Linked DNA regions of Homo sapiens: region 2 is linked to region 1. Evidence: fine-mapped expression QTL. A gene starts in region 1. The other region holds a variant in brackets. All regions are shown on one strand. Distances are between the middles of the regions. Region 1 holds the start of FUCA1 (alpha-L-fucosidase 1). Region 2 overlaps CNR2 (cannabinoid receptor 2).

The links.
Region 2: its variant is fine-mapped to the expression of FUCA1 in whole blood (TOPMed, PIP 0.95).

Annotation. Positions count from the first base shown.
Region 1 is chr1:23,859,156-23,875,334 of GRCh38, forward strand. FUCA1 (alpha-L-fucosidase 1) reads right to left here and starts at 9,135. Exons shown (of 8, transcript NM_000147.5): 1 at 8,743-9,135; 2 at 6,336-6,470; 3 at 3,979-4,116; 4 at 643-748. The coding sequence starts at 9,131. CNR2 (cannabinoid receptor 2) reads right to left here. Exons shown (of 2, transcript NM_001841.3): 2 at 11,360-16,179. The coding sequence ends at 15,380. RefSeq lists an enhancer at 6,097-7,296 and a silencer at 8,547-8,766.
Region 2 is chr1:23,893,790-23,909,968 of GRCh38, forward strand. All of the region lies in intron 1 of CNR2 (cannabinoid receptor 2), which reads right to left. It also overlaps the pseudogene BTBD6P1. Among named protein-coding and RNA genes, the nearest start is that of CNR2, 11 kb to the right of the region's middle. RefSeq lists enhancers at 3,309-3,368, 3,419-3,548, 11,259-11,338. The variant A/G (reference allele first, on the strand shown) is at 10,737.

The sequences.
Region 1 (16,179 bases):
ACATTTGTTTGCTTAATAGAGTTTATTTTTTCTGTAGTGGTCTGGGAATTGTAATTACTATTTTTAGTCTACTATGTAAATTTACCACTGTTTAAACCTATATTGTCAAAGTTAAGAACTAAAGGAGATTGCCGGGTGCGGTGGCTCACGCCTGTAATCCCAGAACTTTGGGAGGCCAAGGTGAGCGGATCACCAGAGGTCAGGGGTTCGAGAGCAGCCTGCCCAACATGGCGAAACCCTGTCTCTACTAAAAACACAAAAATCAGCCGGCCAGGTGGCGGGCCCCTGTAATCTCAGCTACTCGGAAGGCTGAGGCAGGAGAATCACTTGAACTCGGGAGACAGAGGTTGCAGTGAGCGGAGATCGCACCACTGTACTCCAGCCTGGGTGACAGAGTGAGCCTCTGTCTCAATTAAAAAAAAAAAAAAACAACACTAAAGGAGAAGAAAACTTATACTCTAAGGGAGCCAGGGAAGATTAAAGGAGAAACCTTTAACATCCATTAAGTGTCCCAGTCCCTACTGCCCCCATGTTGATATTCCTGTTTATTATTGCTGCTGCTGTGGTTGTCTACTCCAGAGTTTGGCTCCTTGCACTTTCTTTCTTCATAGGAGATAAATAAGAAGTCATATAATCACATACCTTGACAGGGCTGTCATTGTAGAGCCATGAAAGAAAATTTGTGGAGTTCCAGTAAGTATCAGGACATTCCCACTCCCCATCAGACCAGATCAGATCAGGTTTATAGCTGGAAGACATGTGATCAGGACAGAGCTTATTATCTGAACATGTTCACAGTAAAATCTTATGGACCATTTTTTTTTTTAGAGATGGGGTTTCGCTATGTTGCCTAAGCTTGAGTCCAGCAGCTATCAACATGTATGATCACAATGCACTATAGTCTCGAATTCCTGGGCTCAAGCGATCCTCTTGCCTAAGCCTCCTGAGTAGTTGGGACTACAGGTGCACATCACTGCATTTGACTTGTGGACTGATTTTTGCAACAAATATTTTAAAATTAATTTTCCTTCATTTTGAAAGTATGTGGCATAAAAATTATCACAGTGCAGAGGATGTGGAAAACTGAAAACATTTGCTAATAAAACCAGTTTGCTAATAAAACCACCATTTAAAACAAACACAGCAGGCTGGGCACAGTGGCTCACACCTGTAATCCTAGCACTTTGGGAGGCCGAGATGGGCGGATCACGAGGTCAGGAGATCGAGACCATCCTGGGTAACACGGTGAAACCCCGTCTCTACTAAAAATACAAAAAAATTAGCCAGGTGTGGTGGTGGGCGCCTGTATTCCCAGCTACTCGGGAGGCTGAGGCAGGAGAATGGCGTGAACCTGGGAGGCGGAGCTTGCAGTGAGCCGAGATTGCGCCACTGCACTCCAGCCTGGGCGACGGAGTGAAACTCCGTCTCAAAAAAAAAAAAAAAAAACACACAGCATTTTGGTATATTTCCTCCTGATCTTTTCCTTTCTTCCTTTTTTTTTTTGAGACTGTTTTGCTTTGTCTCCCAGGCTGGAGTGCAGTGCTGTGATCTCGGCTCACTGCAACCTTCACCTGCTGGATTCAAGTGATTCTTGCACTTCAGCCACCCAAGTAGCTGGGATTACAGGTGTGCACCACCATGCCTGACTAATTTTCATATTTTCAGTACAGACAGTGTTTTGCCATCTTGGCCAGGCTGGTCTTGAACTCTTGGCAGCAAGTGATCCACCTGCCTCGGCTTCGCAAAGTGCTGGGATTTCAGGCATGAGCCACTGTGCCTGCCCTAATCTTTTTTCTTTATGCCTTTTAGGAAATGGAGGTGTAATCAGCATACAAACAATTTGGTTTCCTTTCAGCAACTAATTCCAATTAAGAATGGGTGCAGCTGGCCGGGCACAGTGGCTCACACCTGTAATCCCAGCACTTTGGGAGGCCGAGGCGGGCGGATCACGAGGTCGGGAGATCGAGACCATCCTAGCTAACACCGTGAAACCCCATCTCTACTAAAAATACAAAAAATTAGCCGGGCATGGTGGCGGGCGCCTGTAGTCCCAGCTACTTGGGAGGCTGAGGCAGGAGAATGGCGTGAACCCGGGAGGCGGAGCTTGCAGTGAGCCGAGATTGCGCCACTGTACTCCAGCCTGGGCGACGGAGCGAGACTCCGTCTCAAAAAAAAAAAAAAAAAAAAAAAAGAATGGGTGCAGCACACCAGCATGGCACATGTATACATATGTAATTAACCTGCACATTGTACACATGTATCCTAAAACTTAAAGTATAATAAAAAAAAAAAGAATGGTGTTTCAAGGAAGCAAAGGAAACAAAATGGTGCTTCAGGACTATAAGACTAAGATTTGCTTTGAAGATGTTTTAAGAGTTGGAACTATTCATAAAATGCATTTTTGTGGATAATTACCAAAGTCTGTACTGTAAAGGACTTATGGAATCCACTGGAGCCCCATTTGTACTCTAGCATATTATTACTCTGAGCCCTATAAGGCATGTATGTTGTGTGTATATACATAAATACATATGTATATACCTATATGGTAAGCATTATTATTCTCATTTGAGCAGCAAGACTTTGATGCTCAGTAGGGCAATTTGTTTCAGGTGACAAGGCTTGTAAGTAACAGGAGGTGGAACTCAAATACAAATCTGCCCATTTGTCCACTGTACTCCATAATTAGGCAGGTAAACTCTAGGAAGATCACTAAGTGGCAAGATATAACAGATGGTCTGTGATTTACTGTGTATAAGAAATTGTACTAGGCAATTTAAACTCATTACCTCATTAGTTCTCATGATTCTAGGATATACTATTATCCCATTTCACAGATAGAGAAACCAAGATCTCGAAAGATAAGTAGTTTGTTCAAGGCAACATAGCCAAGTACGATAAAAGAGTGGGGATCTAAGATTCAGTAATTCTAAATCTGTCCATGTCTCTGATGGTCTCTTACAATTGTTACTATTTTCTTAAGAGAAGTCATCTGGATAGAATCTGAATACAAGGTAATTTTTCTTTTCTTGAGACAAAGTTTTCCTCTGTAGCCCAGGCTGAAGTACAGTAGCAGGATCTCGGCTCACTGCAACTGCCTCCCTGGTTCAAGAGATTCTCCTGCCTCAGCCTCCCGAGTAGCTGGGACTACAGGTATGCACCAGCATGCCTGGCCAATTTTTGTATTTTTTAGTAGAGACGAGATTTCACCGTGTTGGCCAGGCTGGTCTCGAACTCCTGACTTCAAGTGATCTGCCTGCCTCGGCCTCCCAAAATGCTGGGATTACAGGCGTAAGCCACTGCGCCTGGCTAAAGGTGATTTTCCTTTGCTCTAAAGTGAGGGTCCAGGCAGCTGCCTCTGAAGCTTTAAGGGTCTACCGTCCTCTATGAGTCCCCAGGCTCGAGAAAGGCAAATGGGGATAAAACATTGTGAAGAACTAGTGACAAATCCCTAAGTGAAAGTGATCATTTAAAGAATAATGGTAATAACAACAGCCTTACTTTGTACCAGGCACCGTGACAGATACATTTCACATACTATTCTGAGCCCTACAAAGAAGGCATTATTATCCCCACTTTACAGAGTGAGAATCAAGCTCAGGAGAGTGTTCTGTTTAAGGCATGTAAGTAACAGGAGCCAGAATTCAAACACAAATCTGCCCGATGCCAAACCACCCCCTCTCCAGGGTCCTGACATAGGGAAAACGGCATGTAAGAAGGGAACTAAAATTTTGACTTTCTGCCATCCTGGGTTTTGTGTGATTGTTTCAATGTAGAAGGCAATATGGCCACATGACAGAAGTTCTGAAAGGCAGGAGGAAAGAACATATTTTGTCTTAATACAACCACCACTTTTTATTATTTTGATGTCTTTTAGGTTTTTTTCATACCTATCCCTCCTCCACTTTAATGGTACCCTATAGGAAGCTCTGATTTCATTGATAAAAGTCATAGGGCCAAAATATTTCAGTGTCTTACCTGTTAACAAGGTCGTACAGCTCTGGCATTGTTTTTGCACTGACAAAATGCTGTGTTTTGAAGCCATTTTTCTTATCAAGTAGATAGAGTGGATGGAACCACTCTAAGAGTGAGTGGTATAGTCCATAGCGGATGTTCCTTAAACAGAAAAACAGAACAGCAACTGTCATTAAGCATAGAACAAATAATTTATTTTAAGGAAAATCAGTTCTAGCATTTTTTCATTTCAGTGGCACTCACTCATAAGAGCATATAGAGAGGAATGGGATCCAAAACCATTTCCTTAAATTATTCACTATTCACTTAAGCAAAATGAGGTTTACTGTGTTTTTGATTAAACACATAACTACCTTTTATACATAAATATCTTAACACCAAAATATTATTTAAACCATCTTTTATCTTTTAAGTCAATTATCCCAACAGAGTATAGTCCTGCTGGGCGCAGTGGCTCATGCCTGTAATCCCAGCACTTTGGGAGGCTGAGGTGGGAGGATCCCTTGAGTCCATGAGTTTGAGACCAGCCTGGGCAACATAGTGAGACCTTGTCTCCACAAAAACTGTAAAAATTAGCTGAGTGTGGTGGTGCGAGCCTGTAGTCCCAGCTACTTGGGAGGCTAAAGTGGGAGGATGGCTTGAGCCCAGGAGGTAGAGATTGCAGTGAGCTAAGATTGTGCCACTGGAGTCTAGCAAAGGCGACAGAGTGAGACCCTGTCTCAAAACAAAAACAAAACAAAACAAAACAAAAAACCATATAGCCTTATTTTTAAAAAATGTCTTCCCTGTCAATCATAAAATTTCATATTTAAAGAAACTGGAAAATAGAAAATCAAATATGCAAAGTACTCTTACTCAGAAATAATCATTAGTAACATTTTCCACACAGTTGAAATGAATATAGGTTTATCGTTTTATTTATCTAAGATTTACTAATAGTTCTTTCTCTTTTTTTCCTTTTTTTTTTTTTTTTTGAGATGGAGTCTCGCTCTGTCGCCCAGGCTGGAGTGCAGTGGCGCAATCTCGGCTCACTGCAAGCTCTACCTCCCGGGTTCACGCCATTCTCCTACCTCAGCCTCCCAAGTAGCTGAGACTACAGGTGCCCACCACCACACCCAGCTAATTTATTTTTTATTTTTACTAGAGACGGGGTTTCACTGTGTTAGCCAGGATGGTCTTGATCTCCTGACCTCATGATCCACCCGCCTCGGCCTCCCAAAGTGCTGGGATTACAGGCGTAAGTCACCACGCCTGGCCAAACTAATAGTTCTTAACGTACACAAAATGAAATGTGGTTGATGACCTATTTTCATATTTAATAAAGCTTGCTTTGGGTTAAGAATGGTGAGTGTTACAAAAACCTTATAATGCAAGAAGCAATTACACAGATAAAAAACAACTGAAGTATTTCATCATATGACCCAGGGACTAAATAAAGATGGTAAAAATCATGACTCCTGAAGTCCATATCTAATCAATATCTCAGAGTTTTACAGCAGGACTTTAAGCAAAGCACAGTGCTGAGAAACAAACTGAGCAGGTGACAGGAGTCAGCAAACTCTTTTTGTCTTTTTTCTTTTTTTTTTTTTTTTGAGACGGAGTCTCGCTCTGCCACCCACGCTGGAGTGCAGTGGTGCGATCTTGGCTCACTGCAACCTCCGCCTCCTGGGTTCAAGTGATTCTCCTACCTCAGCCTCCCGAGTTGCTGGGACTACAGGCAAACGCCACCACGCCCGGCTAATTTTGGTATTTTTAGTAGAGACAGGGTTTCACCATATTGGTCAGGTTGGTCTTGAACTCCTGACCTCATGATCTGCTTGCCTCTGCCTCCCAAAGTCCTGGGATTACAAGTGTGAGTCAACGCACCCGACCAGTGAACTCTTAAAGATCCAGACAGTGTTTTAGGTTTTGCAGGCCATTTGGTCTCTATCTCAGCTCTCAAATTGTAGCTTGAAAGCAGTCACAGACAGTGCATAAATGAATAGGCATGGCTGTGTTCCAATCAAACTTTATGATTTATACAGACACTCAGCCTACTCCTCAAACAGGACATCAAGTAGCATCGTAGTCTATGTTGGGTATCCTTCATCTAACCAGACATGGCCATGAACTTCTGTAACGGTGTCCCCTTTGGTCACGTGAAAACTGTGAAGCATCAAACACTGCCAATTCAAAGGCCAGAAGCCCTTCCGGCTACTTGCTATATGCAAACCTAGAAAACACACAGGAGTAGAAGGCCAAAAGCCCTTCAGGCTACTTGCTATATGCAAACCTAGAAAACACACGCAAGTAGAGGAGGTACAGAACTCTTGACAGCCAGATCCAAAGAGATAACAGAGTAACCATCCCTGGACACTCACCTCTTCCGGAGAGCTGTTCCCAATTCACCAACCAAATCCCGATGAGGCCCCACGTCTTTGGAGTTCCAGTTCCAAGACACAGGACTCGGCCAGTTTGTGAAGCCTTCGTGATGCTTTGTCGTCAAAACTACATACCTGTGGACAGCAAAACCACATGAGCAAAGGAAGTGGGCAGTGAACTTGCATGAACTTGCCCAGCATGCCTGAGGCTTTTTAAATAGCTGAAAGAACTTGACCACAACAAATGTACTTGTACCAGTGACTATATTAGTGATATCCAGGAAGCTGCTGCAGTCACAATTCCCCTTGGGCATTGCTCCAAGAATGGAAGCAGATTTGAGGAAGTCCCAACCCTCAGTCCCCAGCAAAGGAGGAGGCCCAGAGGGAAGGAAGGAGTGGGTAAGGGAAAAGAAGTGCACCTTAGCTCTCTGATTCTTCAACACTTCTGGTAGGAACGATTAACTTTCTTTCATTCTTTGCCCTGAAGGAGAAAGAGCTCTACTGGAAATGGCAGATAATAGAAAACTAAGCCATTTGCTGGCCAGGCATGGTGGCTCACACCTGTAATCCCAGCACTTTGGGAGGCCAAGGTGGGCGGATTACCTGAGGTCAGGGGTTCAAGACCAACCTGGCCAATGAGGCGAAAACCCATCTCAACTAAAAATACAAAAATTAGCCGGGCATGGTGGTGTGTGCCTGTAGTCCCAGGTATTTGAGAGGCTGGGGCATAAGAATCACTTGAGCCTGGGAGACAGAGGTTGCAGTGAGCCGAGATCATGCAACTGTACTCCAGCCTGGGCTACAGAGCAAAACTGTTTCAAAACAACAATAACAACAAAATAGAAAACTTTCTAGAAAACTAAGCTGTTTGGTTTACCAAGCCTACATAAATTGCCTCTCATTTATTATAGAGGTGACAAAAGACCCAATAACTGGGAGAAAAGGCAAGTGTTGAAATAACAACCAAATCACTCAATATTTAATTTGCTTTTATGGCACAAAAATAGGTAATGCACTTTATGGTTCAATCATTGGCCAGAGTAGGGAACTCCAGGATTTGAAGGGCCAGATAGTATTTTAGGCTCTGTGGGAGCACATTCCTCTCTGTAGTGTATTCTTCTTTAAAACATTTTACAACCCTTTAAAAATGTAAAAACCATTCTCACCTCATGGGCCTTAAAAAACTGGCAGAGGACCAATCCCTCTGGCCAGTTTGCAGACCCTGGTGCAGTGGAAACAACCTTGACGTCATGAGACCTGGAGTCTAGGACATTATATTCCTTCCTCTCTTTGGGCCAGTCATCTCATCCATGAAATAAAAGGCATGGAAAGAGGTTATCTCCCAGATTTTAATTTTTCTCACTTGTAAGTTATGGATCCCTAAGGCCCCTAGGAGACAAACACTTCCTCTGCTTAATCAAGTCTTATACTCCCATACATTTAATGGCAAACACTAAATGCCAGTTGTAACTTCTCTTTAGTACAAGTGAATTCAAAGTTCAAGAGAAACGAAAACCCGGAAGATGGCTGAGGAACCAAGGTAAGGATGGAAGACTGCTCTAAGCCAGGGGCTGGGGAAACCTCCCCGCCTCCATTTTTACTCTTCTCCAACCCACTTCTCTCCCAGCAGCCGAATGAATCTTTCTAGAAGCTGATAGTAACCACTCCCTGACTTAACATCTGTCAATACAGGGCTCTCAAGGCTCACTCCTTCAGGACAAGCCCCTGCCTTGACAACTTCATGGGTCGTGGTCTCCCCTTATCCCCACCCCAGCGCTCTCTACTCTGTTCTCTGAACCAGCCACCCCCAAGTTCCAACAGTTCTCAGAGAGAGTCAGACCCTTCCTGGACACTTCCTACGTAAAAGGGATTGAGAGGAGCAAACGAATGACTATCTGTACTGTTGCCCAAATACACTGCACACCAGAACTCCCCTCTCTTTCCCTCTTAGAGACATTAGGGCTCAAAGGGTTGTATCCTTATATAACCCCTTTCTACAACCATAGAAGAGGCTGCAGGGAGGCTGAAGTGACATGTCCAGGTTCACAGTTGAATTAGAACCAGGCTCCACACCACTGATTTGAAACCCTGGAGTCCTGATAGTGCTGTCAATCTGAAAGGGACATCAGGTATGGCCTAACTCAGCCCTCTCGGTGCACAGGTGCAGATACCCAGGGCTTCCCAGCCTGCCATCTCCCTGAACCTTCATTTATCAGTCCCCAGTCAAACGCACCTCCTCCTCCTCATCAGGTGTGCCAGGCTCACTCCTGTGGCCGCAGGAGGCCACACGCGGGCCCCGGGGTCATGGGGGCGACCGGCAGCTGCGCGCCCCAGCTGGCCGCCCAGCCCCACCTCCTGTTTGCCGCCCGAGCCGGGAAGGGGCGCCGCTCCCCGGGACCACACTCACTTGGCGCCCGCGGCCTGGAAGAGGTCGGCCCACTCCTCCGGGTGGAAGAAGCGCGCAGTGAACTGCGGTCCGAAGTCGGCGTAGCTGAAGCCGGGCGGGTAGTTGTCGCGCATGAAGCGCTGGTACTGCGGCCGCCCCTCGCCCTGCCAGTGCCACCAGAACCACTCGCTGCCCCAGGCGGGCACCGAGAACACGCCCCAGTGGATGAACACCCCGAACTTGGCTTCGTCGAACCAGGCCGGCAGCGGCCGAGAATCCAGGCTCGGCCAGTCTGGGGTGTAGCGGCGCGGAGGCTGGGCCCGACGCACCGACTCGGCCGCTCCGAGGAAGAGCAGCAGCAGCAACAGCGCGGGACCCGCCGGCCGCGACCTCATCCCCGGAGCCCGCATCGCTACCCCTCAGCGACGCGGCCCACTCTTAACGCGCAGGTGCCCGCGGGCGGCTCCGCCCACTCTGACTAACGATTGGCCCGGAAGGAAAAAGGGGTGGGACAACCTGGACAGGTTGGCCCGAGTCGCTTCCTCCTCGGGTCGGAGGAGCGCCCTCTGGTGCTCAAGAAGGGAAAGACGCAGGGAGGCGTTGACAGCGCTTCGCTGAAGGACGAATAAAAACCTTGAAAAGGGACTTAACTGCGAGGTTAAATCGTGGAGGTGAGCAAGGCCCAGTGTGTGCGGAGAACTCACATTTAAGAAGGAGTCCATTGAGCCGGACGCAGTGGCTCACGCCTGTAATCCTAACACTTTCGGAAGTCGAGGCGGGAGGATCGCTCTGAGCCCACAAGTTGGAGACTAGCCTGTCTCTATAAAAAATAAACAAAATGAGCCTGGCGTAGTGGTGCACGTCTGGAGTCCCAGCTACTCGAGAGGCTGAGGTGGGAGGTTCGGGATCGCTTGAGCCCGGGAAGTCTGGGCTGCAGTGAACCGAACCGTGATCACGCCTCTGGGAGTAGTCCATTTTGCCGCAGCAATCCTGCAGGGGTAGGCTGAAGTGAGATCACGAGTTTTATTTAGTGATCACTTGGGAGCCATAGGGGGCTTTTGAGTTGTCCTGTAGCACAAGGCTGGAGGAGGAGATAACAGACCGGAAGGGTATCTAACAGCCCTGACAGAAATAAGGAGGTAGAGGGATGATGGGAAGAAACGTTATGAAAGGAGAGGAAAGAGAAAACTGGGTACTGAAAGAGGGAGAGCGGGCAGGACCGTTTCATCTGTCTGGTATTTACTGAGCTTTCTTTGGGAATTCCGAGGCATTTCAAATAGCTTAGTTTGTACCGAGATACCGCCACTGCACTCCAGCCCCTGGGCGACAGAGCCAGACCAAGGAAGAAAGAAAGGAAGGAAGGAAGGAAGGAAGGAGGAAGGAAGGAAGGAAGGAGGAAGTGGAGAGCCAAGAGGACCCAGGATTGCCTGGCAGGGAAGTTCCCCAGTTCCTCTGCAATTTGCACATGCTGCACATACTCAAACGGGAGGTGAGGCCATTAGCGAGGGAAATACGGAAGTCAGAAGTCTCTGAACAGACAAGGTGGCTCACGCCTGTAATCCCAGCACTTTGGGAGGCCGAGGTGGGCAGATCACCTGAGGTCGGGAGTTTGAGACCAGCCTGGCCAACATGGTGAAACCCCATCTCTACTAAAAATACAAAAATTAGCCGGGCATGGGGTGCGCCTGTAATCCCAGCTACTCAGGAGGCTGAGGCAGGAGAATTGCTTGAACTCGGGAGGTGGAGGTTACAGTGAGCCGAGATCGCACCACTGCACTCCAGCCTGGGCGACAGAGTGAGACTCGGTCTCAAAAAAAAAAAAAAAAAAAAAGAAAAAGAAAAGGAAGAAGAAGTCTCATGACTCCACGTAGCACACTCAGTTCCCACATGCCAGTGAGAGAATGGCAGCACATCAGAGTTGGGACTTTGAAGATCCTAGGCACCATCCTCTTCCCTACCCTTCCCATTGTACCGAGGAGGGAACTGAAGCCCAGAGAGGGCTGGGGGGCTGCCCAAGATCATGCAGCTAGTTTGAGTCAGAGGTGGGACTAGAATACGTGTCTCCAGGTGCAAAATCTATGCCTTTGTTCATGCTGCTTCTTTCTTGCACCTCATGAGAAGTCAGAGCCTATGTTGACAGAACCCAGCACTTCCTCACTCTGGCAGTGACAAGGAGAGAAAATGACTATTGCTGAATCACAGCTGTTTTCTTTTCTTTTCTTTTCTTTTTTCTTTTCTTTTCTTTTGAGATGCAGTCTTGCTCTGTCGCCCAGGCTGGAATGCAGTGCTGCAATCTCAGCTCACTGCAACCTCCACCTCCTGGGTTCAAGCCATTCTCCTGCCTCAGCCTCCCGAGTAGCTGGGTTTACAGGTACGCCACCACGCCTGGCTAATTTTTGTATTTTTAATACAGATGGGGTTTCGCCGTGTTGGCCAGGCTGGTCTCGAACTCCTGACCTCAAGTGATCCGCCAGCCTCAGCCTTCCAAAGTGCTGGGATTACAGGCATGAGCCACTGCACCCGGCCTACAGCTATTTTCTTTATCTTCTGTTTCTTTTTCTGCCAGATTATGTTGAAATATTGCCCAAAACAGTAAGCATGAACACCTTAGGAAAAAAACCGAACCCATCCACACACATTTTCTAGTAATCGGTTTGCATAGTGGTCTTTAATGTTACAGAGCTTGTCTTGGGGAAGATAAAATGGGACATTGTGATCTTCAATTTATTTCTCCTTATCCACATAACCAAAATGTGAACCTGCAGGGACAGGTGAGAGGCACTGATGTAGAGTGGACAGAACTGGAAGTTAGGAAACCTAGGTTTGTTGCACTGGACACCATCTCGTTTGTCTCCCTGAGCAAGTCTTGTCCACTGTCTGGGCCCATTTCCTCAACCAAACAACAAGGGCAGTTCTCAGTGATATCTAGGTCCCTTTTGCACCCTTGTTCTCCTCCCTCATAAGCTCTGCTTCTCCACTTAAAGCAGACATAGGGGCTGGGAGTGGTGGCTCACACCTGTAATCCTAGCACTTTGGGAGGCTAAGGTGGGTGGATCACTTGAAGTCAGGAGTTCAAGACCAGCCTGGCCAATATGGTGAAATTCCATCTCTACTAACAATACAAAAATTAGCTGGGCATGGTGGCGGGTACCTGTAATCCCAGCTACATGGGAGGCTAAGGCAGGAGAACTGCTTGAACCCAGGAGGCAGAGGTTGCAGTGAGCCAAGATTGCATGCCACTGCACTCCAACCTGGGTGACAGAGTGAGATTCTATGTCAAAAAAAAAAAAAAAAAAAAAAAAAGCAGAAATACAGTGTGGTTCTAAAAGAAGAGAAGTAGAAAGTGTGGAGTTGCGTTTGATCAAATGATTTTTAGAATCTAGTTTTATTCATTCAAGAAGTATTTACTCAGTGCTTGTTTGTGCCAGGCACTTGGGCATTTTCTTTGCCAAAATGAGAAAGGATTCCACCGATGAATAAAGAAAGGCATGCTTCAACTTTAAGGAATGACAGTATATAAACATGCAAATTCACTTTTAAACATTTATGCTACTTGTTTGCCTTACAAAAAGATTGGTGTCTGGATTAAAACAAGATTTGATTTTCCAAAACATACGTCAGAGCTTTTCAGAAACAGTTCAGTTCCACACATATTGACCAGATCCCTTCAGATGCTCTGCTGGGTCCTGACTGAGCACTGGGGATGCAGAGGTCAACCTGGAGCTCATCTTGTTGAGGGAGGATAAACTAGTGACTGCCACTCAACACAGCCCAGTGGGTGGACTTTGTTCCTGGGTCTGTACTGAGTTGAATAGTGTCCGCCTAAACTTCTTGTCCACCTGGAATCTGTGAATGTGACCTTATTTGGAAACAGGGTCTCTACAGATATAATTGGTTAAATTAAGATGAAGTCATACTATTAGGATTAGGGTGGGCCCAAATCCAGTGACTGATATTCTTTAAAAAAGACACCAGGCCGGGTATGGTGGCTCACGTCTGTAATCCCAGCAATTTAGGAGGCCAAGGTGGGCGGATCACTTGAGGTCAGGAGTTCAAGACCAGCCTGGGCAAGATGGTGAAACCCCATCTCTACTAAAAATACAAAAATTAGCTGAGTGTGGTGGCGGGTGCCTGTAGTCCCAGCTATTTGGGAGGCTGAGGCAGGAGAATCACTTGAACCTGAGAGGTGGAGGTTGCAGTGAGCCAAGATCATGTCACTGCACTCCTGCCTGGACAACAGAATGAGATTCCGTCTCAAAAAAAAAAAAAAAAAAAAAAAAGACACCAAGAGACACAGAGGAAATGCCATATGAAGACAGAGTCAGAGGTAGGAGTGATGTTTCCACAAGCCAAGGAATGACAGGGACTGCCAGAAGTTGAAAGAGTCAAGGAATAATTCTCCCCTTAAACTTTTGGAGGGAGCAGGGCCCTACCACATCTTGATTTTGACTTCTGGCCTCCAGAATTATGAGACAGTAAATTTCTGTTGATAAGCCACTGGATTTGTGAAATTTATTACAGGAGATTAATACGGGGCCATTTAATAAAATGGAGTATATTGAGAATCTACGATGAGTTAACTTTGCAGCAATCTGATGCTACAGATAGCTAATATTATCCCTAATGAGCAATAATCAAGCAGAATTTGACTGAACTAGGACAAAAGGTTAGTGGTTAAGAGGGCAGGCTTTGAAGTCAAACAGAACTAGGTTGGAGACCTCAGCTCTGGTACTTAGCAGGGTGACCTTAGACAAGTGACTTTGCATCTTTGAGGTTGCCACATCTGTAAAATGAAGATAACTAAGACCTTCTTATTAGGTTGTTGGGAAACATGAAGTGAAATAAGGCATTTAAAAACACTTAGCCCCCTGCCTGGCACATAGTAAAGGCTCAATAAAAGTGAGCCGGCACATGGTAGGTCTATCCTACCGTTTATTGAGTTAACTCAATTAATCCCTATTACATGACATGAACCTGCATATTTCCTTTGTTGTACTGCCTGTAATTATCTTCTTTATTGACTTATTGGCTGTCTTGCAAGCAGGATATAGACTGTAAGCCCCATGAGACAGGGGCACAGTCTCATTTATGGCTGGGTACTCAGGACCCTGCACAGAGCCTGGCTCATGTTTATGAGATGAATGAATAAGTGAATAGCTAGTGGATATTTTGTCTTGAAAGTATTAAACGAAGACATGTTTAACCAATATCTTTCATTTTATTCCATTTGAGGTCCCAAATAATTGCATTAGAATTCCTCTGCAATCTTCCTGCCGCCAACAATTTCTCTTGTTGGCTGTTTTAGGCTCCTCTGGGAGGAACCCAGCCTCCCTCATATGAAAAATGAGTACCCTGGGATCTATTTTATTTTATTTTTTTGAGACAGTCTTGCTCTGTCACCCAGGCTGGAGTGCAGTGGTGCAATCTCGGCTCACTGCAACCTCTGCCTCCAGGGTTCAAGCAATTCTCCTGTCTCAGCCTCCCGAGTAGCTGGGACTACAGGTGCCTGCCACCATGCCCTGCTAATTTTTGTATTTTTAGTAGAGACAGGGTTTCACCATATTGGTCAGGCTGGTCTCAAACTCCTGACCTCAGGTGATCCACCTGCCTTGGCCTCCCAAAGTGCTGGGATTACAGGCATGAGCTACCATGCCTGGCCCCTGAGATCTTTAAAATCATGGAGCTATATTCTAGCTGGGGTCAATAGACTGAAATGTCAGCCCCATACCTGGCATATAGGAAGGACATTTCCCCTCCTCCCACTTGCTCTGCTTATTATATGTAATAGGGGTGTGGAGGAGGCAAGGGAGCTGAATTGGGGGCAGATAGGGGAACAGTTTGGAGATTTATACAATCTTTGTGAATATCTTCCTTTTTTTCTTCGAGTTAGGTTAGACTAGGACATTGCCTGCTTCCAGCAGCACCACCAGGACTGCTGCTGGAAGGACTTCAGAGGGTCAAGAAAATTCTCCAAAGATTTTTGTGTCTCAGGCGATCCCAGCCTCCTCTGTATTTCCAGGGACCTGAGGTTACAGGTGGGGATTATCAGAATATCAGAGAGGGTCCTCGCCCAAACAACAGGATGCCCCAAACTGAAGGCTTGTCATTTATCTCTGAAAGAGGCAAGTCAACACCTTAATCCTCATCATAGCATAGTCCTCGGTCCTCAGTGGCAAGGGTGACTTGAAAGTGGGGCCTTTCATAGCTCCAGAGCCAAGGAGGCCTTGACAATTAGGCAGAGAGAAGACCTGGATGTCCATCCCATCTGATACCCTGACTTCCCAAGAGAACAACCCATTCTTCTCAGATTTCTCCCAAGTCCCTCATTGCTGGGCCTGGAGGCTCGCTTTGGCTCCTGTGGTCTCTGGAGGATGCAGGCATGAAGCCTGACCTGACTTGTACTGACCCTGTCCCAGGCCTTTTGTGTCTCGCCTACCTGGCTACTCCTCGTGGCCCTACCTATCCAACAGACTGTGTGCAGGTGGGCAAGGCCAGGCTGTCTTCCAGGAGTCAGTCCCAACACTCATCAGCAAAAAGGGGTCCGTGTCTAGGTGTCTGGGACTGGTTTAAGTAAGAAGAGAGTGCCAAGACCCCTCTCTCTCTTCCAGGGAGTGAACTGATTTCTGACTTGAGTTGTTTAAATTGGGAAGAGGCCTCATCAGCAATCAGAGAGGTCTAGATCTCTGGAATCTGGCCACGGAGTGATTTTCCCATCAGCCTCTGTCTCGGTGACTGAGGATCTCGGGGCTTCTTCTTTTGCCTCTGACCCAAGGCCCCTCACACACTTCTTCCAGTGAGCCAGGCAGTGATGGGCAGAGGAGCGGATCTCTCCACTCCGTAGAGCATAGATGACAGGGTTGACCATGGAGTTGATGAGGCACAGCATGGAGCAGAAAGCAAAGGCCTTCTTGACCTGGTCACTGAGCGTAGTGGCCAGGCTGTGGGCCATGAGGGCCAGCACTGGGAACCAACAGATGAGGAGCACAGCCAACACTAGCCCTAGGGTCTTGGCCAACCTCACATCCAGCCTCATTCGGGCCATTCCTGGCACCTGCCTGTCCTGGTGGCCAGACAAGCTGGCCACATGCTGATGGGCCTTCCAGAGAACATGCCCATAGGTGTAGATGATTCCGGAAAAGAGGAAGGCGATGAACAGGAGCCAGCTCAGCAGGTAGTCATTGGGGATCAGTGGGAAAAGCTCAGAGCAGGGCCTGGGACAGCAAGTCCATCCCATGAGGGGCAGGTAGGAGACTAGTGCTGAGAGGACCCACATGATGCCCAGGGTCACCAGTGCCCTTCCACGGGTGAGCAGAGCTTTGTAGGAAGGTGGATAGCGCAGGCAGAGGTATCGGTCAATGGCGGTCAGCAGGAGGCTACCCACAGAGGCTGTGAAGGTCATAGTCACGCTGCCAATCTTCAGCAGGAAGACAGCCTTGGAATCCACACCATGGAAAACAT
Region 2 (16,179 bases), 35 kb after region 1:
TATTTTATAGATGAAGAAATTGGGGCTCAGGAATGTTAAGAAACTTTCTGGGGGCTGGGTACCATGGCTCATACCTGTAGTCCCAGCACTTTGGGAGGCTGAGGTGGGCAGATCACTTGAGCCCAGGGCTTAGAGACCAGCCCGGGTAACATGAAACTCCATCTCTACAAAAAATACAAAAATTAGCTGGGCATGGTGTTGTGTGCCTGTAGTCCCAGCCACTCAGGAAGCTGAGGTGGTGGATTGCTGGAGCCCAGGAGAGTGAAGCTGCAGTGAGCCGTGATCACACCACTGCACTCTAGCCTGAGTGACAGAGCAGACCCTGTCTCAAATTAAAAAAAAAAAAAGGGACTGGGCACAGTGGCTCATGCCTGTAATCCCAATACTTTGGGAGGCCGAGGTGGGTGGATCGCCAGAGGTCAGGAGTTCAAGACCAGCCTGACCAACATGGTGAAACTTCATCTCTACAGTAAAAAATACAAAAGTAACTGGGCGTTGTGGCTCGCCTGTAATCCTAACTACTCGGGTGGCTGAGGCAGGAGAATCACTTGAACTTGGGAGGTGGAGGTTGCACTGAGCTGAGATCATGCCATTGCACTGCAGCCTGGGCAACAAAAGTGAAACTCTGTCTCAAAAAAAAAAAATTTTTTTAATAAAAGGAAGGAAGGAAGGAAGGAAGCAAGGAAGGAAGGAAGCTAGGAAGGAAGGAAGGAAGGGAGGGAAAGAAAGTTGGCCAGGCACAGTGGCTCACACCTGTAATCCCAGCACTTTGGGAGGCCAAGATGGTGGAGCACTTGAGGTCAGGAGTTCGAGACCAGCCTGGCCAACACCGTGAAACCCCATCTGTATTATAAATAATAATAATAAAAAAATCAGCCAGGCAGGAGAATCACTTGAACCTGGGAAGCAGAGGCTGCAGTGAGCCACGATCCTGCCACTGCACTCCACCCTGGGCAACAGAGTGAAATTTTGTCTCAAAAAAAAAAAGAAAGAAAGAAAGAAAAAGAAACTTGCTGGGGACATTGGGAATCCACTCTCTTGTCCATTTATTTGAAAACTAGGATCCCATCCAGTTGCTTTGCATTCTCCCCTCCCATCTCCAAACAAATACTTGGTAAATTAACTGACTAATTAGAAATCTGCAACACTGCCGGGCATGGTGGCTCACACCTCTAATCCTAGCACTTTGGGAGGCTGAGGTGGGCGGATCACCTGAGGTCAGGAGTTTGAGACCAGCCTGGCCAACATGGCAAAACCCCATCTCTACTAAAAATACAAAAAAATTAACCAGGCATGGTGGCGTGTGCCTATAATCCCAGCTACTTGGAGGCTGAGGCAGGAGAATCGCTTGAACCCAGGAGGTGGAGGTTGCAGTGATCCAAGGTCACGCCACTGTGCTCCAGCCTGGGTGACAGAGCAAAACTCAGAAAAAAAAAGAAAAGAAATCTGCCAACAGGACAGTTTTGTTGAGTCTTTCCAAATATCTTCTTCCTCTTTCAATTATTTTATAATTCAGCAACTTCTCTTTTAGAGAATGGACTAATAATGCTTACATTCATAACATACTTGACAATTTACACAGCCTGGGAAGGCTCACGGCTATTATGTGAGGCAGGTTTTGCTCAACTATTCCATGAGCAAATAGATTCAGAGGGGGCAAGTCCTTTGCCCAAAAACCCATAGCAAGTGGCGGACAAAGCCAGGACCTGAGTCCTTTTTTTTCTCTCTCTTTTTTTGAGACAGAGTCTCGCTCTATCACCAGGCTGGAGTGCAGTGGCGTGATCTCAGCTCACTGCAACCTCCAAATCCCGGGTTCAAGAGATTCTCCTCCCTCAGCCTCCCGAGTAGCTGGGAGTACAGGTGCGCGCCACCACACTCAACTAATTTTTTGTATTTTTAGTGGAGACGGGGTTTCATATTGGCCAGGATGGTCTTGATCTCTTGACCTCTTGATCCGCCCTCCTCGGCCTCCCAAAGTGCTGGGATTACAGCGTGAGCCACCGTGCCCGGCCAGGACTTAAGTCCTTGTGTCATGACAAGGTCAGATTGGTAAAGAGGCAGGATGGAATGCATGACTCTGCATAGGGTGAGGGGCCCTGATACCACGCACAATCTTTTGTCTTTATTTCCAGGGGCAAATCCCATCTATTTTCTCTCTCTTTTTGACTTTTATTTTTCTGACCATTTTTTCTCAGTAATGCCTTCATTGCTACCATTAGCTGGCCTTGAGTTATTGTTATTATTATTTACTTTTTGTAGAGATGGGGTCTCACTATATCACCCAGGCTTGTCTCAAACTCCTGGCCTTAAGTGATCCTCCCGCCTTGGTCTCCCAAAGTTCATGCTCAGATTACGGGCATGAGCCACCACACCCTGCCAGGCCCTAGACTTTAGTCCTTTCCCCACCTTACTGGTGGAGTCTGGACCTTCTCACCGACAAGGATTTACCCATCAGGCTGTTGGGCTTTGGAGTCAGATAGCACTGAGTTCCGATCTTGGCTCTGCCAAGTACTATTAGCTTTTTGTTCTCAAGTAAAGACACTCACTTCATTCATCTCTTTCATTCAGTTCCCTCATCCATAAAACAGGAGTAACAAGTAGTACTTGTCTCATCAGTGGTGGGGAGGCATGAAGACTAACTGAGTTAGCTCAGGCCTAATACAGTGCCTGCCACACACTAAGCCCTCCATGAATGGCAGCTTATATAGATGCTATATATGTGAACACATTAGAGCTTTCTCCTCACTTTCTCAAGTTCTTTGCTAGTTGGTAACCAATGAGAGTGACGATGTCATCTCTATTGTGCCCTTGGGCTGGTAGGAGGAGTGTCAAAGAGGGAGATGAGAGGCAGGAGGGAAGGGTGGGACAGGAAAGCAGAGGGGGAAGACCCTGTCTCCACTCAAGACTTTTAGAGATGAAAGAACAGGAAGCTGAGATTGTGCCAGGGAGCACCTGCTAGCTTGCCGTCATGACGAGAGCCCTGGATTAAGGAGATAGGAAGGATGCTGGTTCCAGTCCCAGGTGGAACTGATGGCTGTGTAACCTCAGGCACAATAGCCTCCTTCTCAGTAGGTCCATCTGCACCAGGAGTGTTTTTTTTTTTTTTTCTTCTAGAGTCTTGCTCTGTCACCTAGGCTGGAGGCTGGAATACAGTGGCGAGATCTCAGCTCACTGCAGCTGCCTCCTTCCAGCTTCAAGCAATTTTCCTGCCTCAGCCTCCCAAATAGCTGGGATGACAGGTGCCTGCCACCATTTTTCTATTTTTAGTAGAGATGGGGTTTCACTATTTTGGCCAGGCTGGTTTTGAACTCCTGACCTCAGGTGATCCACCCGCCTCAGCCTCCCAAAGTGCTGGAATTACAGGTGTGAGCCACTGCACCCTGCCAGGAGTGGTTTTTTGATGAGATCTCAAAAGGTCCTTCAAACATGGCAGTTATGCAATTAATCACATGGGGCAGAAAACAGGGGTGTTGTCAGATTGCAAAAGAGCTGGCGAGAGAAAGGCAGATCACGAAAGCCTGGGGCAGAAGTTCTCAAACTTCGTGGTCTCAGCGACCCTTTACCGTCTTAAAAGTTACCTTGGCAATAAATAGCTTTTGTTGATGTAGGTTACACCTATTAGTACTTGCTGTATTAGAGACTAAAACTGAGAACTTAAAAAAAATTAATAATCCTATTGCATGTTAATAGAATTTTTTTTTTTGAGACCGAGTCTCAGTCTGTCACCCAAGCTGGAGTGCAGTGGTGCGATCTCGGTTCAATGCAAACTCTGCCTCCCGGTTTCAAGCAATTCTTCCACCTCAGCCTCCTGAGTAGCTGGGACCACCACACCTGGCTAATTTTTGTGTTTTTAGTAGAGACAGGGTTTCACTATGTTGGCCAGGCTGGTCTTGAACTCCTGACCTTGTGATCCACCCGCCTTAGCCTCCCAAAGTGCTGGGATTACAGGCATGAGCCACCACGCCCGCCCTGAAGTAACATATTTTTAAATGAAAATAACTTTTTGTGGCAAATCTCTTTAATTGTCTGGTTTATGAGAAGGCAGCTGGATTCTTATCTCTGCTTCAGCATGCAAACTGTTGCAATATGTTGTTGTGGTTTAACTATGTGAAGAAAATAAATTTGCCACTCTCTCCTGAGTGCTTCCTTTGTGGCAGGCACTGTGAAAGGCCTTTTACAAGCACTGTGTCCTTTTCTGTTGTTGTTCAAATCCATACTATATATTTATTTTTATTTTTATTTTTTGTTTGTTTTTGAGATGGAGTCTCACTCTGTCACCCAGGCTGGAGTGCAGTGGTGCGATCTTGGCTCACTGCAAGCTCCGCCTCCTGGGTTCACGCCATTCTCCTGCCTCAGCCTCCCAAGTAGCTGGGACTACAGGCACCCGCCACCATGCCTAGCTATTTTTTTATTATTTTTTTGTATTTTTAGTAGACACAGGGTTTCACCATGTTAGCCAGGATGGTCTTGATCTCCTGACCTTGTGATCCGCCCGCCTCAGCCTCCCAAAGTGCTGGGATTACAGGCGTGAGCCACCGCGCCCGGCTTTTTTTTTTTTTTTTTTTTTTTTGAGATGGAGTCTTGTTCTGTTGCCCAGGCTGGAGTGCAGTGGTATGATCTCAGCTCACTGCAAGCTCCGCCTTCCAGGTTCACACCATTCTCCTGCCTCAGCCTCCCAAGCAGCTGGGACTACAGGCGCCCACCACCACGCCCGGCTAATTTTTTGCATTTTTAGTAGAGACGGGGTTTCACCGAGTTAACCAGGATGGTCTCGATCCCCTGACCTTGTGATCCGCCTGCCTCAGCCTCCCAAAGTGCTGGGATTCAGGCTTGAGCCACCACGCCTGGCCAATTTTTTTTTTTTTTTTTTTTTTTTTTTTTGAGACAAAGTCTCACTCTGCTGCCCAGGCTGGAGTGCAGTGGCACGATCTTGGCTCACTGCAAGCTCCGCCTCCCAGGTTCAAGTGATTTTCCTGCCTCAGCCTCCTGAGTAGCTGGGATTACAGATGTGCACCACCATGCCCAGCTAATTTTTGTATTTTTAGTAGAGACGGGGTTTCACCATGTTGGCCAGGCTGGTCTCCAACTCCTGACCTCAGGTGATCCAACCACCTCCACCTACCAAAGTGCTGGGATAACAGGCGTGAGCCACCACACCTGGCCCGTACTATATATTATTTTTAAATGTTTTCATTCTATTTTTGATGGACAAATAATAATTGTATATATTTATGGAATACAATGTGATATTATGATACACGTATCAAAATTGCTAAAAGAGTAGATTTTAAATGTTACCACAAAGAAATGCGCTGTCTCCTTTATCCTCCAAACTGCCCTTGGAGATAGACTGTCTCATTTTCACGATCTTATCTATGAGGAACCAGAGGCTCAGCTAGACTGGATTTGCCGAGGTCACAAAGTTTGTAAATGGCAGAGTCAGAATTCAGACTCATATATCTGGTGCCAGACCCTGACCACAGAAGTTGGGCAGCCTAGATGTGAAACCACCTTTGCAAAATTATGACTGAGACTGTGAAAGAGATCTAACTTAACTGACTCCATCTTGCTTCTAACCTCCAAGGTGTCCTTGTTCATTCCTGGGCTGAACTAACTTTGGGAGAAACTTAGTTTAAAACTAAGACAATAACAGCCCTTTCCCAAAGTACACCTCCTTCTTGGCTGGGGACTAGATTGCCTTTGTAGGACTAATATTAGGCACAAGATTAGAAATTATGGTTTAGGGTCTGGTGTGGTAGTTCACGCCTGTAATCCCAGCACTTTGGGAGGCTGAGGCGGGTGGATCACTTGCGGTCAGGAGGTAAGACCAGCCTGGCCAACATGCTGAAACTCCGCCTCCACTAAAAATACAAAAGTTAGCCAGGTGTGGTGGTGCATGCTGTAATACCAGCTACTCGAGAGGGGGAGGCAGAAGAATCACTTGAACCTGGAAGGTGGAGGGTGCAGTGAGCTGAGATTGCGTCACTGCACTCCAGCCTGGGCGACAGAGGGGTCTCTGTCAGAAAGAAAGAAAGAAAAGAAAAAAAAGAAAGAAAAGAAAGAAAGAGGGAAGGAAGGAAAGAGAGAGAGAGAAAGAAAGAAAGAGAAAGAAAGAAAGAGAAAGAAAGAAAGAGAAAGAAAGAGAAAGAAAGGAAAGAGAAAGAAAGGAAAGAAAGAAAGAAAGGAAAGAAAGAAAGAAAAGAAAGAAAGAAAGGAAGGAAGGTTTAGGAGTCATGCAGCTGGAGGCTACAAGATTCTGACCCTCCCTAAACTGCTCCTGCGATCAGTGCTTGAGATACTTTGCAGACCCTGCACTTGATGGATCAGCTGGCACCACCCAAATCCATAAACTGGCTCATGTGATCTTGTGGCCCCCACCCAGGAACTGACTCAGCGCAAGAGGACAGCTTCGACCCCCTGTGATTTCATCCCTGGCCAATCAGCACTCCTGGCTCACTGGCTCCCCGCAACCAAACAAACTGTCCTTAAAAACTCTGATCCTTGAATGCTGGTGGAGACTGATTTGAGTAATAATAAAATTCCGGTCTCCCGCACAGCCAGCTCTGCATAAATTACTCTTTCTCTATTGCAATTCTCCTGTCTTGATGAATCGGCTCTGTCTAGGCGGCAGGCAAGGTGAACCCCTAGAGGCTTATAGACGGAGGGGCATGGGGTCTCTCTTATACTTCTGGGCAACCATCTCTTCCCTGATCTCTTTTTTTTTTTTTTTTTTTTTGAGACAGTTTCACTCTTGTTGCCCAGGCTAGGGTGCAATGGTGCAATCTCGGCTCACTGAAACCTCCGCCTCCCAGGTTCAAGCAATTCTCTTGCCTCAGCCTCCCAAGTAGCTGGGATTACAGGCATGTGCCACCACGCCTGGCCAAGTTTGTATTTTTAGTAGAAATGGGGTTTCTCCATGTTGATCAGGCTGGTCTTGAACTCCCAACCTCAGGTGAACCGCCCGCCTTGGCCTCCCAAAGTGCTGAGATTACAGGCATGTGCCACCGTGCCTGGCCTCCCTAATCTCATTTTTATCCTTCCCACCTTGGACCATTTTACCGAGCCACGTTTCCAGCTACCAACCAAATTGTCCTTAAAATCTCTGATCCTCGAATGCTGGGGGAGACTGATTTGAGTAATAGGACACTAGAATGGTCGCTCCAAGGGAGTTAAGGCTTATTATTTGTTTTGTTCACTCCCGTATCTTAAGTGCACCTGCCTCACCCATGGTCACTGCTCAGTAACTCTTTCTTTTTTTAATTGTAGGCAACCTTTATTACAGAAGTCCCTTATTTTAAGTGACTTTTTGCCGATTTTAGATTTGAAGGGAAGGTCTACAGTTAAGCTTGGAACCACTTAGTATCCAAGAGGGTGGCAGGAACATGCAACCCCTCAAAGCAGGTGGCATGGGTGCCATTGGGAGGGGATCTGGGGCCTGTCTTGTGCCCTAAATCTTCCTCCACCTGAGACGTGCACCCCAGTGTACCAGAGATGCCTAAGACTCCAATCCCCCAGCTCTGGCTGTGTGGAAAAGGTGCCTACTTCACAGAATCAAGCTTCAGTTGACTACATGCCAAAGAGAGACAAGGTTAAGTGTGGCCTTTCATGGTGTCAAGAAGCAGTTAGTGTCCTGATTTCCCCTCCATCCACTCGCCGACCTGCTGCAGCCTCCCCGGGCACCTCAGGCATAGAAGATGAGCTCAGGGATCTGCCCACCCTGGACCCCAGTCCCGTTGGTGCTGTCCGAGGAGCACTGGAACTGGAAGGCCACCTTTCTGCACTGCACTTGCGTCATCCCCTCCTGCCCAAAGTAGCTGAGGTTGCTGCCGTCCAGAACAGCACTGGCCATGTAGAAGGTGTCTTGTTCAACCTGGACCGGGTGTTCAAACCAGACCGGGAAGGTGTTACTGGATCTGTCCGACATGAATTTGGTCAGATTCTGAGCCAGAACTACCCCAAGCCTCTTGAGCTCAATCTTCACGCTGTACTCAGCCTTCCCAGAGCTGGACCCACACAGGCCTAGCCCCGCAATAAATACCCTTCTGTCCACTGCAAACTGGATGCTGTCGCAGCGCCCGCAGTACTGGCATTGGTTGCTGCGGTAGGCAGAAGACTGGAATAGGTGGCACCTCTGCGGGGTGAGGCCCTTCCTCTTGATCAGGGGGAAGTCCAGGCGGGGCTTGTTGGTGGCCGTGTACCACAGGAAGATGGTGTGGGTCTCCTCCAGAGTCAGGATGTCTGGATGTCTGACTGGGCAGCGCCGTTGGCAAACTCCTCTAGGGTCATGGTTGGAATTCGGATCAGATAGAGGGCTCGCCCCAAAACATGCCTCTTGTTTCGTGGGGTGACTGGCAGCCCCTGCCTCTTGCACTCTGCCTTGGCCCAGTTCAGGACGGCCTTGAAGACCACCGCCTCCTGGTGTTGAGGGCCTCCCGAGTGACAATGATCTCCAACGTCTGCCGGTCCATCTCACAGAAGCCTTGGGACCGCAGGGCCATCTCGGCCTGTGCGTCGATGACCTCCCAGCAGCGCTGGGTCAGGTCGGGCTCCTCAAACAGCCGGCTCTGGGACAGCAGGACGCAGGCGTTCTTGGCTTTCAGACTTGTCCCCAGAAAGTTGACGCAGGCTTTTGCCAATGCTGGGACGATGTACTTCTTAGCAGCCTACAGAGTGGCCAGCACCGTATCCGCTTCCAGATCGATCTCATCACTGTACACGTACTTTAATAGGATCAGAAAGGCTGCGGGCTCCACGTCTGGAATGTGAATTTCAGATTTGACTTCCGCCAGGTCCCAGTAGAACATGGCATAGAAGACGGAGCTGCAGACAGCCAGGACGTACTTGTGGGCGGGCACCGTCCTGGTCGCCCCCGGGGGTCCCACGACAAAGTGCACGTCGGCCACGAGCTCGTTGTTGAACATGAGCGCGTTCCTCTCGCGCAGCGTGGGGGACCGCGCCATTTGGGGCTCTCCGGGTGGTTGTTGCCAAGTGTGGGCTGCGCGGGCGCGGGCGCGGGGGCGCGGTGCAGGCTGCGCTGCCCGGCCTTCCTGCCCACGGCGGCGCCGGCGTTGCTGTGGGCTAGGACCGCGGCCGCGGCGCTGGCGGGGACGTAGAGCTCCGCCGCCATCCTCGAGGGCGGGGCGTCGGGGGCAGCCTCGGAGCCTGTGGACCCCCGCCCCGCGCCCTCGCGCCGCGCCGGGGCCTCGGGAGCGGCTCTGCAAGCAAAAGCAGGGAGGTCGGGCGCTGAGCGACGCGGCGGTGATGGCAGGCCAGGGGCAGCACCATTCATGGGCGGCGGCGGCGGCGGCGCTGCGACCCGCGGGGCTGCCACCCGTGCCCCTACCACCCCCGCCCCTGCGATCCTGCCAGAGCCTAGCCTAGCGCAGCCGGGCCAGGCCTGGCCGCAGCAATAACTGCTTTTTAATGGATTGGTTGGAGGTATTCTCTCTGACACATGCCAGCATCCTCAAGGAGGGTAACCTGCTTTCTAATTTTCAAAGTGAGGCCGGGTGCAGTGATTCACACCTGTAATCCCAGCAATTTGGGAGGCTGAGGTGGGAGGAGCGGTTGGGCCCAGGAGTTCAAGACAAGCCTGGGCAACATAGGAAGACCCCGCCTCTACAAATAAAAAAAAATTAGCCAGGGGTAGTGGTTCATGCCTGTGGTCCCAGGCACTTGGGAGGCTGAGGTGGGAGGACCACTTGAGCCCAGGTGGTTGAAGCTACAGCTAGCCGTGATGTGCCACTGCACTCCAGCCTGGGTGACAGAGTGAGACCCCAGGCTTTGTCAAAAAAAAAAAAAAAAGCATTTCTTTTTAACGTGCGTCAGTAAGAAGGGCATGCCTAGGTTAACATATCAAAAGTGCTCCTCATAGTATCTGTGAAACAGCCTTGCAGAACCTAACCTGCCAGGCCATAAATGCAAGGGTGAAAATGGGATTGTGGGGAGCTTCACTTTAACAATAGCTAGTTGTGTAAAATGCAATTAATCCTCACAGTAAGTCAGGAAGGGTGGTCCTATTATCATCATCTCTGTTTTGCAGACAAGGAGACGGAGGCGCAAAGATGCAGTGACTTGTCTGAGGTTGCACAAAAGGGCAGAGCCCGATGTGAACCCAAACCTGTGCCCAGGTCTGCAACTGTCACAGGAGCCTGCCTCCTAGTTGCTCAGCTGGCTCCTGCGGCTTTCTCCCGGGGACTTCTCTCTAATCTTTCTGGGGGGCCCTTTGAAATGTTAAAAAATTGCATTTGGGCTCCCGATTTTCTGCTTTACCAGATTCCAGAGTTCACACTGCCTGAAGACAGGAATCTTAGCTTTGCCCCACTAGGGAGCTCCTTTGTGATCCAGGTGATGTCACTCAGAACTCTGGTTTTTTTGTTCGTTTCATTGTTTTTTTTTTTTTTTTTGGAGTCTCGCTCTGTCACCCAGGCTGGAGTGCAGTGGTGCGATCTCGGCTCACTACAACCTCTGCTTCCCGGGTTCAAGTGATTCTTCCGGCTCAGCCTCCCGAGTAGCTTGGGATTACAGGCGCCTGCCACCATGCCCAGCCAATTTTTTTGTATTTTTATTAGAGACAAGGCTTCACCATGTTGGCCAGGCTGGTCTCGAACTCCTGACCTCAGGTGATCGGCCTGGTGCTGCTTCCAAGTGCTGGGATTACAAGTGTGAGCCACTGCACCTAGCTAATCTTCATTTTTATAACAAGAACTAAAAGGCCTATCTCCCTCTTTCAAAGA[A/G]AGTCTACTACAGAAAATTATTTGATGCTCTGTGATATTACAGCATAAATGACTGATAAGCATGTGTGGATCTCTTTCACCCTGAGGGTAGCCTGTTACTGTGAAATCTGTCAGCCATCGGGAAGTATGCATTTGTCTGGGGGTGGGAGGAGCATTGTTAAAATCACACCTGGAAGTGGCCAGTCACCCATTCTGTCCATGAAGTGCTCTCTGTAGGAAAGGAAACTTTCATACAAAGTAAGGCATTATAACCAGGGAACAGAGAGGTCTGTCCCCTGATGATGAGGACTTTTCATGGTGGCTTCTCTCTAAAGCAGGAGTAAGACAGGGTTAACCACGTGGTGAACATTCTGAATCACCTGTGGTTTGCCTCCAGGCCACTCTACCTCTTCCTGGTTTGGCCAGATCCCAAAGGGTAGAGCCCCTACCCCAGCCATGATTCTGGTTTGCTTATAGGGTTGCATCAGTCGGGGGTTGAGGTTGCAATTCAGGCTGGTTCCCAGAACAGGGGAGTTTGTGAAGCGATGTGGAGAGCCATGGAGGCTCAGCTCTTGAAACACTCTGGTGATTATGACAATAGTAGCAACTAATACTGAAATTGCACCTACTGTATACCGTGTGTCAGGCACTATTCTCTGCACTTAACTTTTCTTTTCTTTTCTTTCTTTTTTTTTTTTTGAGATGAGTCTGGCCCTGTTGCCCAGGCTGGAGTGTAGTGCATCTCGGCTCACTGCAACCTCCGCCTCCCGGGTTCAATCGATTCTCTTGCCTCAGCTTCCCAAGTAGCTGGGATTACAGGTACCCGACACCACGCCAGCTAGCTTTTGTATTTTTAGTAGAGATGGGGTTTCACCATGTTGGCCAGGCTTGTCTCAAACTCCTGACCTCAGGTGATCCACCTGCCTTGGCCTCCCAAAGTTCTGGGATTACAGGCATGAGCCACCGCGCCCAGCCATCTTTGCACTTTATATATTATATATATTTATATATTAATTTATATATTCTACACAACAAATCCATGATGGGGGACTAGTATCACTCCTGTTCTGTAGTTGGGGAAACCAGCATCAGCAGAGAGGCTTGACTCATGGGGCTGATAAGATCTGTGAGTGGTGGCAAAGGGGCTGGAGGGGACAAAGGGACAAGCTGGGCAGAGGCTGATGGATGAATTAAACCTGGCATGAGGACTCAGGCCACGGAGAGACGAGGAACAGCCAGGGATAGGCCAGACATCTGGGGAGCTGATCCTCCTGTAAGTTCCTTCTACCTCTCTCTAATAGAATTAATTAAGGTGCATTTGTGCATCTGTTGGCTTTTGGTCCCTGGGACCATAACAAAGAACACATGTTGCAATCTCTGGCCTGGGATTTGGGATCTAGCGGGATCACGGGACACTCTATCAAGCCAATCTCAGGCCTCGGGAGCCAAACTTGCAAGGTGGCCTGGATTTCTAGTTCCTGTTCCTGTTCTGTGTAAAAGAGATTCTCAGTTGGTTCTGAACACAGATTCTCAGTTGGTCCTGAACTTACCCTCGGAACCAACTGAGAATAAGGAGGAAATAGGTAGACAGAGGCAGCCTGAGTCATAGTTGTGATTCTGATTCTGCTCCCACTCTGATGTTTTTTGGAGAACTAGGCTTAAGCTGTCTTCCCCCCTCAGACTCTCTAGCAGTGGGACTCCAGGCCCACACCACTGTACCCACCTCCTGCCCCTTATTAAAGCTGTGTTCTCTCGTGCAAATTACGTCGTCTCCTTGAGCCCCACTGTCCTTGTCTGTAAAATGGGAATAATGAAAATACCTCCACTCAGGACTGTTGTGAGGATTAAACAGTATGTATGGGACATAGAAAACTTAATTTTACAAACCCCAGTGGAAACTACTCGAGCCATTTCATAATTTTCTATGGCCCATGAAAAAGGAAGTGATTTTAAATAAAATGTACTATTTACAATAAGTGTATTGTTTAAAATTTTTCTCTAACTTTTTTTTTTTGTTTTCCTATCTTTCTTTTTTTTCTTTCTTTTTTTTTTTTTAGAGATGGAGTTTTGCCACGTTGCCCACGTTGGTCTTGAACTCCTGAGCTCAAGTGATCCACCTTGAGCTTCAGCACTTCCCAAAGTGCTGGGATTACAGGCGTGAGCCACCGCACCCGGCCAATTCATACTTCTTAAAAGTAATTTTATGTTTGCTATATGATAAGATAAAATAGGTTTCATTTAGCTGGGAGTGGTGGCATGTGCCTGTAGTCTCAGCTACTTGACAGACTCAGATGAGAGGATGACTTGAATCTAGGAGGTCAAGGCTGCAGTGAGCCATGATTGCACCACTGCACTCCAGCCTGGGTGACAAAGTGAGACTCTGTGTCAAAAAAAAAAAAAAGAAAAAATATGTCTCAGGCCCCTATTTGCATGCCTCTCTGTATATGCCTTGCAGGTGTAGATCTCTTTTATACCCAGTACAGGAAAAGACAGAATACATCTTTCTCTCTTCTTACCAACCTTTGAAATGTTGTGAAGTAGTAGGATTTCTCTAATATGCCATATAAGAAAGTTGATCAGATAAATGTAATTTATGAATCTTGAAGCAGGCCGGGCATGGTGGCACACTCCTGTAATCCCAGCACTTTAGGAGAGCAAGGTGGGCGGATCACCTGAGGTCAGGAATTCGGGACCAGCCTGGCCAACATGGTGAAACCCTATCTCTACTAAAAATACAAAAAAATTAGCCGGGCGTGTGGCATGCACCTGTAATCCCAGCTACATGGGAGGCTGAGGCAGGATAATCGCTTGAACCTGGGAGGTGGAGGTTGGGACGTGGAGGTTGCAGTGAGCCGAGATCGCGCCACTATGCTCCAGCCTGGTGACAGAGGGAGACCTTGTCTCAAAAAAAAAAAAAAAAAACAAGAGAAAAAAGAAGAATCTTGAAGCAAATCTGCAGAGGAGTTAACACCATCATTTCCTTGTATTTTCTTTTCTTTTTTTTGAGGTGGAGTCTTGCTTTGTTGCCCGGGCTGAAGTGCAGTGGCGTGATCTCGGCTCACTGCAACCTCTGCCGCCCGGGTTCAAGCAGTTCTCCAGCCTCAGACTCCCAAGTAGCTGGGATTACAGGCGTGTGCCACCACACCTGGCTAATTTTTGTATTTTTTAAGTAGAGATGAGGTTTCACCATGTTGGCCAGGCTGGTCTCAAACTCCTGGCCTCAAGTGATCCACCCACCTCAGCCTCCCAAAGTTCTGAGATTACAGGCGTGAGCTACCGTACCCAGCTTCCTTGTATTTTTGATATCAGTTTCTTATGCTGTCTTTAATCATTGGCTCAGTAAGGGTATAAATTAAATGATATCAGATTAAGAGCAAAAACGATGTAAAGCCATATATCAGCCAAAGCTGTAGCTGAATGATTAATTGCCTGGTTGTGAGTCATGAGCTAGTTTGTTCTATCACCACTAACTACTGCTTTTTTTTTTTTTTTTTTTTTTTGAGATGGAGTCTCCCTCTGTTACCAGGCTGCAGTGGCGTGATCTTGGCTCACTGCAACCTCCGGCTCTCTGGTTCAAGCAATTCTCCTGCCTCAGCCTCCTGAGTAGCTGGGATTACAGGCACATGCCACTATGCCCGGCTAATTTTTGTATTTTTAGTAGAGACGGGGTTTCACCATGTTGGCCAGCATGGTCTCGATATCCTGACCTCATGATCTGCCCACCTGGGCCTCCCAAAGTGCTGGGATTACAGGCATGAGCCACCGTGCCTGGCCAACTATCGCTTTTTAAATATTTATTTTATTTTTGAGATAGGGATCTTGCTCTGTCACCCAGGCTAGAGTGCAGTAGCACAATCTCGGCTCACTGCAGCCTTGAATTCCTGGGCTCAAGCGATGCCTGGCTATACCTGCCAGATTTGATTCTTCCACTTATCCTAGGAAGATCTCACATTGAGAAAAAATCTTTTAACTATTACAATAATTATTCACTAATTTTTAAAAAAATGGAAACAGGCATCAAGACCTTCTAATGATGTGAACCTTCTGGAACATCTCCCTCCCTAGTGGGAAAAGCTGGTAGAAAGTAGTGGGAAGACAGACTTGGGTTTGACTCCTGTCTCTGCCTGTTGTGTCTCAGCCTTAGTGGCTTCATCTGTCAAATGGGCCCATTGGAAGGGAGGGAGGGCTACAGAAGGTCAGTGAAGCACCCTCTGGCTCCTTCCTTGCTCTCAGTGGGCTCTATTCCCCAGCTTCCAGCTCCATCAGATTTTCCAGGACCCAAACAGACCCAGGGAGAGACACAGAGGACGAACTCAATGAATTTGGGCTGAGGCAACACTGTGAACGCAGCTGTGGCTCTCAAAGAGGAACTTAGGGGTTGCCTCAACCTCTAGGGAGGCAAGGGAGCCTCTGAGAGACAGGTGGGGTGGTGGGGGTGAGGGAGTGGGAAAAGCTGCCTTTGACTCACTGTATGAGCAGGAGATCAGAGACCTCCTCTCTGGGCAGTGGAAGCAGGTGGGGGAGGGGAGGAGAAGCCGTGAAGCTCACCGGACACCGAACCACGAAGTCCCCTCTGCTCATGGGCTCACCCACATCCTCCCCGACTGGATGGGGCCCCAGCAGCCTTCACTCCCTCGCCTGCTGGGGAATCCTTCCCTCCCTGCTTGGCCCTAACTCCACTATGCAGTTCCTCCCCCATTAATCTGGCCTTGTCTGTCATTTTCTCTCCTTGGCATTTGAGGTCTTTGCTGCATGGCGTGAGGACTGAGTACATCCTTTCTCTCCCCAGGAGATGGAGGGAAAAGAGAACAGTTTTACACTGTTCTGGGTTCTGCTGGAAGAAGGCTGAGACCTGATCTTACTCTTCTGGTGGTCCCTGCAGCATAGCTGGGGACCGAGAGCCTTGGCTGTGCGTGGGTTCCCACTCTGCCCTCTCCCGAGACTTCAGTGTCCTCATTTATAGCTTGGGGAGAGAAAGAGAATTGCCTTTACAGGACCGAGGTGAGGATTACATAAGATAATGCCTAAGCACAGTCAGGGAAGGTCTGTCAGAGATCATCATGGAAACAGGAAGTCACCTGGGCCAAGGGCTAGAGCCTCAGGGTCTTGGCACAGAGTAGACACCTCACAAGACTGGATTGGACTGCTCAGTTTGGGGTGGGAGGAGAGAAGCCGGCCATATTCATATGATATCCCTCCAATTTCCTCCCCAGCGCAGGTTCTCGGGTTGTCCATGTGATGGCATCTGAAACGCAGCCTGGCGAGCGACACAGTAAAGACAACCCTGATCATGAGTCCCCGAGCCTGCCCTGCATCTCCATACCTAGAGGCATTTCCACTCCCGTTCTCCTATTTTGATTCCCACCACAATATGGCTTGGTTCTGGATCCAGATTGACCTGGACTTGAGTCTCAGCTTTGCCATTACCACCAGTTATGGGACTGTGGACAAGTCTCTCTCCTTC